Homo sapiens: one gene and its partner. The protein of the gene in region 2 interacts with the protein of the main gene of each other region in a pairwise test. Each region holds a gene or a part of one and is shown on either strand. Other genes may lie near its edges.

Region 1 (7,483 bases), on a different chromosome or scaffold from region 2:
GGCTGTCCTTTTATACAATTCACTAGGTGTAACATTAATTATAAATATTTATATTAATTAATATTACCAATAAAGGAGCTACAAGTAGTGATAAATTATATTGGGAGGAGGAGGAGGGATGGTGGGAAGAGGTAGATGAAACATATCCTTATTTGTTACAGCAGGAAGTCAATAGTTAAATTACAAAATTGATAAACCAAGAAATAACTATGTACAATTATTATTGAAGAAAATCAACTACCAGAAACACTAAAACCAAATGATTAAAAGTGATTATCTCTGTGATCAGAACCATGTTTAGCCTCCTGTTCAATTAGATTTTTAAAACTATGTATTTATTTTTTATTTAAAAATAATGCAGTATAAATTAATAATTGTCTTACAATTTTGAACAAATGTTACTGAATTTATAATTACTATTTTGTCATTGCATATTTTCATTTATGAATATTAAAAATAAACACTATTATGTAAAGACCTAAAATTTTGGTGAAAAAGTGATTTTCATATTTGAAATATAGTGGGAGATAGAATAATAGAAAATGTAAAGAAAGACTATTAGTAAAATTGATGATTTTTCTTTTTTTCACTGTTTAAGAAATTTTTATTAAAGCAAGAATTTTATAATCCAAACCATGTTTCCTTGCTCAGTTATCAATTCTGTTACTTAAAACAGAATGGACATTTTGAGCTATTCCACAGTAAAGAATTAAAAAATTAAAGGAATGCTTTAAATTTTTGTACTTTGCTGAAAATTCTTTTCCCAGGGTCTACAAAACATTAACTGGTTTTTGTATTTTACGATTTTTTGTTTTTAAATCAAAATTAAGTAATCTTTTTTTTGTTTTTAAATCAATAAGTAATCTAGGACTAGCATTATATTTGCTAGACCTTGCATTTGCTCGGTACATAAGGTTCAAAGTTTCCTTTCCATTTTTTATTTTAGATTTTGCATTTTTTATTTTAGATTTTGCAATTTTTTTTCCCATAGTTTCTCGATGTTTAGATATTTTTCTTCGGTGAAGCACAAATTTCTTTTCGTGGTCTCTGATCAATTTTAAACAGTTGGAACACCGGTAGCACTGTTAACTGCTTTCTGGGTAGCCTCTTTAGCTTGGTGGGCTTGTAGTACAGCTACAGCTTCATCAACCTTAGAACGGAGTGACTCTGGAGACTCGAGCATATAAAGAAGTTCTGAATTATCAATCTCCAACAACATGCCAGTGATTTTCCCAGCAAGAGTAGGGTGCATGGCTTGAATAAGAGGAAAGAGCCGTTCACCTAACATTTGCTTTTGCTTTTGAGGAGGGGCAGATGCCAACCTGGAGGCAGTCAAAGTTTCCTGACCTTGTACATGAACAGCAAGCTGTTGCATTGTAACTTGTGGCTGTGCATTACGATGTTGCTGAGGATTGCGAACTCCCGCAGCATATTTATACCGTGGAACCGTGCGCACAGCAGGGGTAGCTGCAGCAGCAGCAGCAGCTGCAGGACGTGGACCCACTGTCTGTGTTGATGTGTTAGCAACACGCTGCGTTGACATGACTCGTGGAACCTGTGAAGAAGCTGGTCTCATAGTACTAAATGGTACTCTAGGAGCACCTGGGCGGATAGCACTGGGCTTATTTTGGAATGGATGAGGTCTGGCACCCTGAGCAGTCCAGCGAGGACTTGGTCTTAGTCGAGCAATTTGGCTAGGAGGATAGTATGCAGCATGGTTCTGAGTCTGTGGGACAGCTGTCATGAAGTAACCTGAAGGAGGTGCTCGCTGGTTGGGCACAGCTCGTACACTTGCCATTCTCTGCATATACTCGTTAGTGAGGTAAGCCTGGCGCTCTTCTTTGCGCTGAGCTAAAGCTACATACAATGGCTTTGTGGCCACAATTCTACCGTTCATTTCTGTAACTGCTTTAGTGGCTTCTTCTGGGGAGGAGAAACATACAAAACCAAACCCTTTGCTGCGACCACCTTCCATCATAACCTTTGCACTAGTGATTGTACCAAATGGAGAAAACGCTTTCCGGAGACGTTCATCATCAATACCATCATCAAGATTTTTCACATAAAGATTAACAACCTGGTATCTGGTGATCCTATCTTGCTTCATCTGTTCAAATGTGCGCTTAAGTTCCGTCTGCCGTTCCACTTTTTTCTGAGCTCGACCAACGTAAATTTGTTTTCCATTGAGCTCCTTTCCATTCATCTCATCTACAGCTTTCTGTGCATCTTCATGCCTTTCAAAGCTTACAAATCCAAATCCTTTGGATTTTCCACTTTCATCGGTCATTACTTTCACACTTAAGGCGGGCCCGAACTTGCCAAAGAGATCCTTAAGGCGCTCATCATCCATGTCTTCTCCAAAATTCTTGATGTAAACATTGGGGAACTCTTTTGCCCTAGCTCCAAGTTCAGCTTCTCGTTCTTTACGAGACTTAAATTGTCCAACAAATACTTTGCGACCATTTAGGAGCATTCCGTTCATTTTTTTAATAGCTCTTTCAGCTGCTTCGTGTGTCTCAAAGTGTACAAATCCATAACCCTTGGAACCATTTTCATCACAAACCACGTTACACGAAAGGATGTTACCAAAAGCAGAAACTGTATCATACAGTGCTTTATTATTAATGGACTTATCCAGATTTTTAACGAATATGTTGCCCACTCCACTTTTTCGAAGTGATGGATCACGCTGAGACCACATGATGCGTACTGGCTTGCCCTTTATAACATCAAAATTCATGGTGTCCAGAGCATGCTCCGCGTCCTTCGTATGCTGGAAGTTCACATACGCGTAGTTGGAGGAGCCGCTGGTGATCAAGTCCCTGCAGATCCGGATGGAGAGGATGGGCCCTGCCGGGCTGAACTTCTCGTAGAGCATCGCCTCAGTCACGTCGGGGTGGAGGTCCCCCACGTAGAGCGAGGCCGTTGGGTAGCTGGGGGTGCTGGGGTTCATTCTCGGCACGGCTGCCCGCAGGCACACAAGCCGCGACCTTTCCGTTACAGGAGTAGAGCGCGTGCCGGGGCCGGGGGCGTAGCCGGAGGGAGGGGAGCGGGGGCAAGCGCAGAGGGACAAAAATCAGCCGAAATCGAAAACTACTCAACGGCCGCAGAACGGGGTCGATCCGCTGCCGCTGGCTGCCGGCTGCCGGCGGGGAGCCAGGGTAGCGGTGTCGGGTCCGGGCAGCAGGAAGGCCTTGGTCTCTTAGTTCCTTCTTGGAGCTGCTGCGGGGCCGCTGGCGGGCGGCTCGGGCTCAGCTGCTTCACCGGGTTATTTTGTAAAAGAGCATTAATGATTTTTCTAAAATGATTTTTATAATCCAAATTTAAAATGCCTGGGAAAAAAATAAATGAAAGAATTTTTTTCTCCTTTCTCCTTTAGTATGTTTTTATATATGTTCTACTTTACACAAATATATTTTTATAAAATATTTTCTACTTTTTACCTCGTCTCTACTAAAATTACAAAAAATTAGCTGGGCTTGATGTGCTCACCTGTAATCCCAGCTACTCGGGAGGCCTAGGCACGAGAATCGCTTGAACCCGGGAGGTGGAGGTTGCAGTGAGCAGAGATCGCGCCACTGCCCTCTAGTCTGGGTGACAGAGCGAGACTATCTCAAACAAACAAACAAACAAACAAAAAACCCCGAAAAACCGACTTTTTATATTATATAACAATATAAAACATAATAAATATGTAATTTTATTTTTCATTTATTTATTTTTATTTTACTTATTTATTTTTGAGACGGAGTTTTGCTCTGTCACCCAGGCTGGAGTGCAGTGGTGCGATCTCGGCTCACTGCAACCTCCACCTCCCAGGTTCAAGCGATTCTCCTGCCTCAGCTTCTAAAGTAGCTGGGATTACAGGCACCCACCACCAAGCCTGGCTAATTTTTTGTATTTTTAGTAGAGACGGGGTTTCACCATCTTGGCCAGGCTGATCTTGAACTCCTGACCTCGTGATCCACCCACCTCGGCCTCCCAAAGTGCTGGGATTACAGGCGTAAGCCACCGTGCCCGACCAATAAATATGTAATGTTAATATAGTATTATATGATATAGTCTTTTGAGGTCAGGTTGGGATTCATTATTAAGTATACGTTTTATGATTATAAGTACACAATCTTGTGACCTAATATAGCTACACATCTAAGTAAGTGATGATCTGAAATAATTCTATTTAAGAAAATCCTTTAAGAAAGGTCCAGTCCCACAAAAAATATCAGTTTGGGGGAGGATCTGTTCATTCTGTTCATGTTACAAATAATTTATTTTAGGGTTTTTTGTTTGTTTGTTTGTTTAGATAGAGTCTCGTTCTGTCACCCAGGCTGTAGTGCAGTGGTGCGATCTTGGTTCACCGCAACCTCCACCTCCCGGGTTCAAGGGATTCTAGCGCCTCAGCCTCCCGAATAGCTGGGATTACAGGCAGGCACTACCACGCCTGGCTAATTTTTGTATTGTTTTTAGTAGAAACGGGGTTTCGCCTTGTTGGCTAGGCTGGTCTAGAATTCCTGACCTCAGGTGATCCGCCCACCTACGCCTGCCAAAGCTCTGGGATTACAGGCGTGAGCCGCCGCGCCTAGCCTAGAGTAGAGGGTTTCTTTAAATAGTGGTTGCCACTAATATAAAATTCAATTAAAAGTTTAAAAATGAAGTTGATACACAGCTTTTTAGGAGCACGTCCATCATTTCAACAATGTGGTCTTGTAAAAACCAAGTGCTAGGAAGGGTGTGGTTACTCAACAATATGAGATCGATTTTCTGCCTCATTAACAAAAGCAAAATGCTCTTCCAGAGAAAGGCATCTTCGCAGAACCATTTCGGTGTGTTCATGGGCAGGAAAGCAGATTCCCCACAGATACAGCCCACGGAATATACACTTGGGTGGAAGAAAACCGGGATGAATGTATCAAAATTCCAGGCTTCTTGGAGACCTATGATTTAATTTGTAACTTCATTTTCAGATTTCCCAGAAGTTTTGAGGATTGCAATCCCAAGCCCAGTGATGGTAGAGCATTTAAAACAAGCCTAGACCATACAGGAGAAGGTTATTTCCACTGGACAACTAATCTGCCGATTGTATTATGGTTTAGAGAAAATCCTGATGCAGTTAGCAAACAAATTGATTTGTGTGGAAAAATTTTGTCTGGAAGGAAAAGGAACTGAATAGATAGAAGGGATTTATTTATTATTATTATTATTTTTATTTTGAAGACAGGGCCTCACTCTGTTGCCCAGGCTGGAGTGCAGTGGCCGCAGCTCACTGCAGCCTTCACCTCCCAGGCTTAAGAGATCCTCCCACCTCAGCCTCCCAAGTAGCTGGGACTAGAGGCACATGCCACCACACCCAGCTAATTTTTGTATTTTTGGTAGAGATGGGGTTTTGCCATATTGCCCAGGCTGGTCTGGAACTCCTGAGCTCTCCAACTCCTGAGCTTAAGCAATCCACCCACCTCGGCTTCCCAAAGTGCTGGGATTGCAGGCGTGAGCCACCACACCTGGCCAGAGAAATTTCTTCTTTCCCAGATTCTTCTAAGTTTATATCGGCATATTATATGGTTTAATCACAGCTCTCAGTCACCATGGTTTCCAGAGTAACAGGGAATGGAAATCCCCATGTCTAATTCCTACACTTTCCCTCTTCCCTTTTGTGGAGCTTCCTTTTCATTTCATGATTTTTAGCAATTATAAGTTTGACTGCTTCTCTTCTGGAGAGTTGGTAATCTGTAGAAAACATCTAGTCTTTGGTTTGTCGTCAGATAATACTGAAGGTAGTCTTATGCACAAATAAGGCAGAATAAAGTCGATTCTTATGTTTAAAAAAGAATTAAAAGTGGAAAGCCTCAAATATGGGCTGTCAGGCTACCCTGTTGACATATTATTGTGGACAATGGTGTCAGATTGTACAGTGGGGTTGTAAATGTTGCACCTACACATATTGTCCAAATAGAAACATACAAAATGACACTTCTGTACTTGTCCAAATAGAGAAGTACAAAAATACACACTTTTGGGCAAAGAACATGAATAGACACTTCTCAAAAGAAGACATACATGTGACCAATGAACATGAAAAAAAGCTCAACATCACTGATCACTATAGAAATGCAAATCAAAACCAGAATGAGGTACCATCTCACATCAGTCAGACTGACTATTACTAAAAATCAAAAAACAACAGATGCTGGTGAGGTTGTGGAGAAAAACAAACACTTTTACACTGTTGGTGGGAGTGTAAATTAGTTCAACCATTGTGGAAGACAGTGTGGTGATTCCTCAAAGATCTAGAGGCAGAAATACCATTTGACCCAGCAATCCCATTACTGGGTATATACCCAAAGGAATATAATCATTCTATTAAAAGATACATGCATGCATATGTTCATTGCAGCACTGTTCACAATAGCAAAGACATGGAATCAACATAAATCCCCATCAATGATAGACTGGATAAAGAAAATGTGATACATATATACCATGGAATACTATACAGCCATAGAAAGAAACGAGATCATGTTCTTTATGGGGACATGGATGAAGGTGGAGACCATTATCCTTAGCAAACTAACGCAGGAACAGAAAACCAAATACCACATGCTCTCACTTGTAAGTGGTAGCTAAATGACGAGAACACATGAACATACAGGGGGAGAACAACACACACTGGAGTCTGCTGGAGGGTGCAGGGGGAGGAGGGAGAGCATCAGGAAGAATTGCTAATGGATGCTGGCTTAATACCTGGGTGATGGGATGATCTTTGCGGCAAACTACTATGACACACGTTTACCTATGTAACAAGCCTGCACATCCTGCACATGTACCCCTGAACTTGAAATAAAAGTTGGAAATTAAAAAAATGTTTTTAAAAAAATACACACTTTCAAGACTGTGAAAATCAGCATAGGTAGGAACCCAACAGACAATGAATAGAAAGAAAATCATAATTAAGACCATTTTCATTGGTCAGAGTCTGTGAGTCTGGTGAAGAGGTGAAGAAGGAGCATGTCTAATCTCATCTCATTAACCAAGCTGGCCAACAAAGACACACGCCTGCTCTTGGTCCATTCTGTCTGGATGAGGCTAGCAAATGTTCACCTTACAACATGGGTGTTAACGGGCATGAGGAACTCATTCTAAGATAGGGAGTATTTCTCAGATAACACACTAATATTCACCACTCTGGGTTTTTCTTTTAAACATGTATTTTTTCTTGCTTTTCATGTATTTTTATGTTTTTAAATTTTTGAACAGGGGATACAGTTACAGTTCCTTGGTGGCTGTGGAGCTCTGTGGAACTCTGAGGGTGGTGAAAATGGCAGGGGTTGTGTGCACTGGCTTTCCAAGATTGAGCTTAGGATGAGTGGGGCAGGCCAACTAAGCATTTTTGGCCACTTCATTTTTTTGTTTGTTTGTTTGTTTCACTCTGTTGCCCAGGCTGAAGTGCAATGGCATGATCTCAGCTCACTGCAACCTCCACCTCCTG
Region 2 (7,029 bases):
TGTATCTGATCTCAGTAGTAGTTGCACAGCTGTATGGTATTGTTATTCAAATCCACAAATTAACTAAATGTTTTATTATATAGATGACAAATTACTAATGTCCAGGGCTTTCCAGAACCATTTTTTTCCAGTATTCCTTTAAACTATAGTAGGATTTTTGTATCCAACCCAATTTAATTGTCAAAAAAAAATGCTTGAAAAGTCCAGGGTTTTAATGTCTTCTGAATCTGTTGCTTTTGAAATTAGGCATTTCTGTTAAGTACTGAACATTTATTGATGGTATTGTTCAATAGAAAAAAAGAACTAAATGTAACAAAGGAACTGACTGAATATAAAAAATTTGATACTTCACTGTACATCTTAATTTTAAAACATGAATCTGTCCTTTTATGTTATAGTCAAAGATGCAGGCATCTCTAATATATTTGTCACAGTAAATTTGAAAGTCACAAGTAGTCAAAAGATTTGAAAATCACTTCAAGGGGAACACAACATTTGAAAGTTATTATAGCTAGTCAATAACGTTTGAAAAACATTTAAAGTGGTTGGTTTATAGATATTGTATTTACTATGATGGCTTAATTGATCAAAAATAGTTGGTAACTACTATTCCATCAACTGTAATTGAAAATAATTGGTAACTGTACAAAAATAAAAACAGATCTTGAATTTTACATTTGGAAACTTGCTTTTAAATGGTGTTTAATTAAATCAAAGTTTCTATGGTTGCATGTGTATTTTTTAACTCATACCATTTGATCCACGAAAGTGCAGTGGGTGGTATGGCTGGAAGCTAACGGGGGGTGGCTCAGGTATTACATAAATAGGGTACCTTGCCTCAGCTGCAAAGTACGGAGCAGGCTGATAAAAGCAAGTTACCTTTTGTGTATTGGGTAGAATATTTAGTTCTCCAAGTACTTTCAAAGCCATCATGGTGATCAGGTGGAGAATCTGTCTTCTTTCATAACTCATGAGGCAAACAGTGCTTTCATTCACAACTCCATGCAAGGTCATAAGGTAGTCATACTTGGTCATTCCTTCACCTATGAAATGGTTGTGGAGGTATGATTCAATTTTCTTTTGCTGTTCTTCTATATGAGGAAAATCAATAAAGAATCTAGAGCACATATAACGTTCTAGGTTTTTGATTTCTGACATACAGGCTGGCTTGAAGCCATGAACCAGCAAGCTGCAGTACTTCAGAAGGCCACCACCTCTAATCTCTTCAGGTTTCCTGGTACATATGAGCTTGTGTTGCAAATGTGTCATTGCTTCCTGGAAGTCTCCATACATGCTTTCAGCTACCACAACAGGATAGGATTCTTTGGTTAGCTTGGCATTTTTGTCACTGTAGAAGTCTAACATGGGATCCAAAACAATTTGAAAGGAATCTACACTAAATTCAAACTGCCGTCTGAGTGAACTCACAAATTTTAGTTCTAAATTCTTCCCAGTGTTATTTGAAAGGGAGATAAGACTCCAACAATCATGCCCATTGCAAACCTTGACCAATTTCTGTACGTAAGCGTCTTTCATGATATCTGGGGAGAGCTTTTCCTTCTTTACATCTTTTGGTAAAAAGTCAAGTAGACAGTCTAGAACTGCATCTTTAACAACCTGAAATTCTTCGTTACCTGGAAGCTCAACACCAAAAATAACGTCCAGATCCTTATAGCTGATTCCATTGTGGCTTGCAAGTATGTAACTTGCTACGGAACCATTCAATCTGGCATCTTTAACAATAATTCCTTGCCCTATGAGTTGATCTTTCACAACATGAATGATGTCTTTTGGTTTTACCTCCATTGTGGGGAAATTCCCCTTTCCATGAATTGGAATTACTTCATCTAACACTTGATCCAGTGTTATAACTTGATCCCAAGTGAGATTGGTGAATCTGATTTCAGACATTGTGAAGTCAGTAGATCACTAGACAGCAAACAAAATATTGGGAAGAAATATGTTAGCACCTTAAAACCAATGCTAAAGCATATGAAAAAGTTAAAAATAGACTTACCCTCAACATAAACCATGATAATACTAGGGAGGAAATTACCAATATATTTAATCATGTTTAAATATAAAAGTGAAATAAAAGCCACAATTATTATGTCAAAGATGTTAGATACATTGATGAATGCAAACAGATTTCTCAGGAATTTTCTGGAGTTGTAATGACTGTTGATATAAAATGGTAGCCTTTTTTAATCTTGCTTCATGTAAATACTATAATGATGGTATTTCTTTGGTGATATAAATTTTGTTCATGGGATAACCATAATGTATCATTGAGATTAATTATCATGATTGTAAAGTGAGACCAGATAACATGTCTCTGTGTTAGAACCAATGGACTCAATGGCATAGTGTTTACAAACAATATATATAATCTTTAATCCCAAAAGCATCAGATCACTCTCTCATATACTTTTCAGTTTCTCATATATAACTGCTCTTACTTAAAAGAATATTACTGAAGTCTTCTGTTAGAGTATGAGCTCCTTTAATTCCTTAATAAGGAAAGTACCTAATTTATCACCTCTTCTATGTGCCCAGTAGCCCTTTAAAAAATGTTAGTTGAAGGAATGTCAATTTAAAATGAAAAACAGATGAGACTACTAAATTTGTACCTGAAATGAGAATAAGAATATATAAACTCATAAGATTCCTAAGCTTTAAAAAATGTTCACTGCAGATTTGCAATATAATATGCTCAGATAATTTTATAGTTTAGGGAATGTTAGGAAGTTAACATTTTATAATATATTGTAACACTATAAATGCAAGTAGATACAATTATGTTGTTATGTACAATCACAGTGATTACATGGATCTTCAAGTACGCTAATAAGTTGTCTAAACAAATAAATCTAGGAAAGTAAATAACATTCAACATGGACATAGTTTTGGGGTTAGGCATTTGTTCCTGACTTCCAGAAATAAAAAACAATATGAAGCCTAAGATTTGTGTGGACAGTATTCATATTTTGCCTATCTAAGGAGCTATCAAAACAGAATATAAATATTTGAAATTTAGTATTATGTATTTCCCTAGTAGAACTAGAGCAAACATAATCATCTTATTTGACATCTACGTGGACTACTTTGATAGTCCATGCATTTTGCAAAAGGCCTATTAAGCAACAGCATATCTGTGTTAGTGAGAAGGAAAAATTAAACCTATTCTGTTTCTCTGTATGTAATCCCTAGAAATATGAACTACAGACTGAATATTTATTTTTATTATATGATGAAATGACCCATGAAATAGGATGCTTGTTTTAAGCCACTTTAATGACTAATGTTTATACAGTTTGATCAGCTACGTGAATATCCAAATCGATCCTTAAAGATGGATGGACCAAACTGATTACATATCAGGCTTTCAGAATTTGGTAATTTATCTATCGAATGAAATGATCTATATAGCATCTTTAGGACACTGGAAAGAGCAAGATGCTACATGAAGTGATACAACATGCAATGAGAACTGGTAATCTTATTTTCTAGTTCCTTCTGAAATTATCACTGAATTATTAGAAGCTAACAGTTTGTTATGCTCAAATTCTCAATCTAGAAAAGGAATAGTTCATAACACTGGCTGGCTTCATGTAAAGGTTTTAGGAAGAAAAACAATTTACCTAATAAATATTTTTTAAATATCACATATAAACTGTTAAGATTTTAATTTATGATACAGCAAAAGTTCTAAAATTCCTTCTTCATGTGCAAATTTGTTTTGCAAATATATATTTTCCTTTCCTTAATGGCAAATTTCCATTGTCAATATCAGTAAAAATTTTAAAAAATTCAATGGTCTAATCCTAGGCCTACAGTCTCCATGTAAATCATCTATGATCTGAAAATAAAGGAAAACATTTATCTTGCTATATTGACATTACTGAAATTACGAAATTCTTTCCCAAACAAAAGTTGACAGGACACTTATATACAAATAAAACCATCCAGAGACTTAACTAAAAAAAAATTGCCAAAATGCAGAAGTCCTTGATCAAGAGATATCCTTCAAACCAAGAAATTGGAAGCCCTACTTAATATCTTGGATCTGCTCCTAGATATCAGAGAAGGGAGAAGATAGGATTTTGTTTACCAAACAGAATGGCAGTAAGATCTTGCAAAGATAAGAAAGTGGTCCAAAATTTAACTTCACTTTATACCAGGAAAGTGGTGTAGAAAAACTGTCCATCAGTATGCAACTTTCCAATTGCCACTTAATTATCTATGCTAGTGATTTCCAAACATTCTAGTCTTTTCAATTACCTACAAGCTTTAAACACACACACATAAAATAGTTTAGGCCTAGTATTTCATAATAATTACAGAAACAGTGATGACAACTTGCCAGGATGTGGAGAAACGGTGTCCTTGCGTGAGCAACACATTATTCAATTGTCTAAATCAAGGCTTTAATAACCAGTTAGGTTTTTTTTAACCTTTCTCTAGCCATAACTATGAAAGCTTGTTTTTGGAATCAAGTCTATTTTATTCCATATCATTACTAACTGACAAATTCTGAGTTACCATGTCACTAACTACCTCTACTGTTACATAAGAAAATGAAAATTACAAATTTTTAAAATTAGCCCTAGAAAAAAGCGTTAATTATGATAAAAATTTGTGATACATATATACTCAAACATATATATGTATACATATAGACATATATAAGCACAAAATATAATAAAATACATGTCACAATGGAGTAAATATAAGTGATTTGTACTGATCTGGAATCTATACATGCCTCCAAAAATGCTGACCTCTATTAACATGAATAATCAAGATTTGACAATAATGTTATGCTCCTTTTGGCACAGCTACTGTTCATTTTCACATAATGTACAATATCAATGCAGTGTTATTAGTACAAATTTCAAATATGGCATTAAAGTAATAGGACTTATCTTAATGTGTAGATTATGGCTCCATACTTAACCGCATATAGTAGAGTTAATCACCCATATATCAAAAACAGCACATCAGAAAACTTGTTGGGAAACTTAATTTGAATTTTCTGAAGCAAAAAGTATGGCTAAATAGAAACTTTGGATGAATGTCATGGTAAAGGTGGAAAAACTGCAACAAAGCCACCCATATTGCTTATAATACTGTCTTGGGTACAATCCAACTTTTATTTACTGAAAGTGTGTTTATTGAGTATGAATTATAAAGCTACATTTTCATAAGTTAAAATTCCAAATTCAAGGCAGAAACTCTTCAATAATTTTCCACATAAACCTCAATAGAAGCACAAAACATGAAATTTCTAATTATCGTTTTCAAAATGTGGAGATCAGCAGTAGTTCACATTGCAGAATATTTAAATCTTGTTTGGCTCCCTGTCTTCTCCCAATATACTTATCCTTTAAGCTAACATTTTTCCCATCTAGCCTAACCTATTAGTATGCCTGTAATGTATCTGACTACAGTAAATGCCAAAATCAATGCAAAGTGGTTTCCATTATTCAACTGGTTAAATTCATCTGGGAATGCAAAGCAAAGCAAGCAATTTGTCAAGATATCACAAAAGACTATGAATGGATATTTGTATAATAAAGAAAATGTAATTGTTCTCCCTATTACAACTCTATGTTCCCTTTGACGATGGGAAACATAAGAAGTTAGCCACTCTTTACCTGTCTATATTAATATTAGAACTATATTTTCAAAGACAGTGAGAAAAGACATCATACTTACATTGAAAGGATTGCTTTCAAGAATGCAATATAGTTGAGTTAAAATGATTATTCAGTAGATCCTTCAGTGAAGATAGTAATTTTCATATTATCACTGAATAAAGTAATACACCAACCAGAAAAACTGCAAGATAATAAAAGCAAAAATAAAGTTCTTTAATAGATATTATATACAAATAATATAATGATGCCCCATGGCCGACAGTCCTGAAAATTATATACATACATACATACATACATACATACACACACAGACGCATACATACACACAGAAGAAATGATGAAATGATTGCTCTAAAATAGTGGTTCTCAAAGTTTAACATGCATTAGAATTACACAGATGGTTAGTAACTCTAATGCATGTTAAAATTTGACAACCACTATTTTAGAGCAATCATTTTATCTGTGTGTAAACACACAGATTTCTGGGTCCCACCTCCAGAGTTTCTAATTTAGCAGGTCAGATGTGGGGCCAGAATATCTTCATTTCTAATAACTTCCAAGATGATGCTAATGCTGCTGGTCAGGGAATGACACTTTAAGAACTGCTACACTGAAGAAAACTGAGAAGAAACGGTAAAGGAAAAGTAGTCTCAATAGCAGTTCCTAGTCCCTCATATTTTGGCTATTTCCACTTAATTTAAAACATTACATTAAATAATACAGAAAATTCTAATCAAAGTGAATGCTCTTTTAAGCCATAAACTTTTGAAAACATTTCAGCAGTGCAATATTGTTTTCTGAGCTGGACATTAAGGCCAGTAGAAAGTCTTTCTAAAGCTTGTATTGTGGTCCTAAATCTAATTAGTTCCCTTACCTATAATAAATGATTGTATATAAAAATGAATTCCTGTACTTTAGAAACTTTCAAGTTATATATCCATATATACGTACCTATAGACAAACAAACAACAAGATTTTGGTCTGAATGTATTATATTTTACCAGTCTAAAGAAGTATTAAACATGATTTGACTATTGGAAAGAGGTATTAGATATTTTATTTGACACATTGCATTTGTTTCCAAGAGAGAATATTAATGTCTGTGAGAAATAACAGTTCAGTATTTAATTAAACAATGATTTACTCATAATCAACCATTATCCCTTTAAAATACAGATACCTATTTCAGAAAAAAATAGTATTTTCTTATATCAAGAAGAAAAGATTATGCTTATCAAATAATATCAATTTGGTGTTTCCATACTGTGTTCAATAAGATCGTAGAATACCCTGAATAGTATACTTCAATAAAAAAACTATAAAATAAAGTGTTAATCATCTCACGGAAGTGTCTTGCATTGTTTTCACT

Evidence for each region. The genes of interacting proteins can lie anywhere in the genome.
Region 1: the proteins of TENT5D (region 2) and PABPC3 interact in binary tests that used the Homo sapiens proteins (3 or more experiments, as listed by UniProt).

What each region holds. Positions count from the first base shown.
Region 1 is NC_000013.11:25,091,669-25,099,151, reverse strand, and holds the start of PABPC3 (polyadenylate-binding protein 3), read right to left. Parts: upstream 3,017-7,483; 5' UTR 2,954-3,016; coding exon 1,058-2,953; 3' UTR 1-1,057. UniProt on the Homo sapiens protein: Binds the poly(A) tail of mRNA. May be involved in cytoplasmic regulatory processes of mRNA metabolism. Binds poly(A) with a slightly lower affinity as compared to PABPC1.
Region 2 is NC_000023.11:80,437,422-80,444,450, reverse strand, and holds part of TENT5D (terminal nucleotidyltransferase 5D), read right to left. Parts: intron 5,842-7,029; 5' UTR 5,719-5,841; intron 1,930-5,718; 5' UTR 1,912-1,929; coding exon 742-1,911; 3' UTR 1-741. UniProt on the Homo sapiens protein: Catalyzes the transfer of one adenosine molecule from an ATP to an mRNA poly(A) tail bearing a 3'-OH terminal group.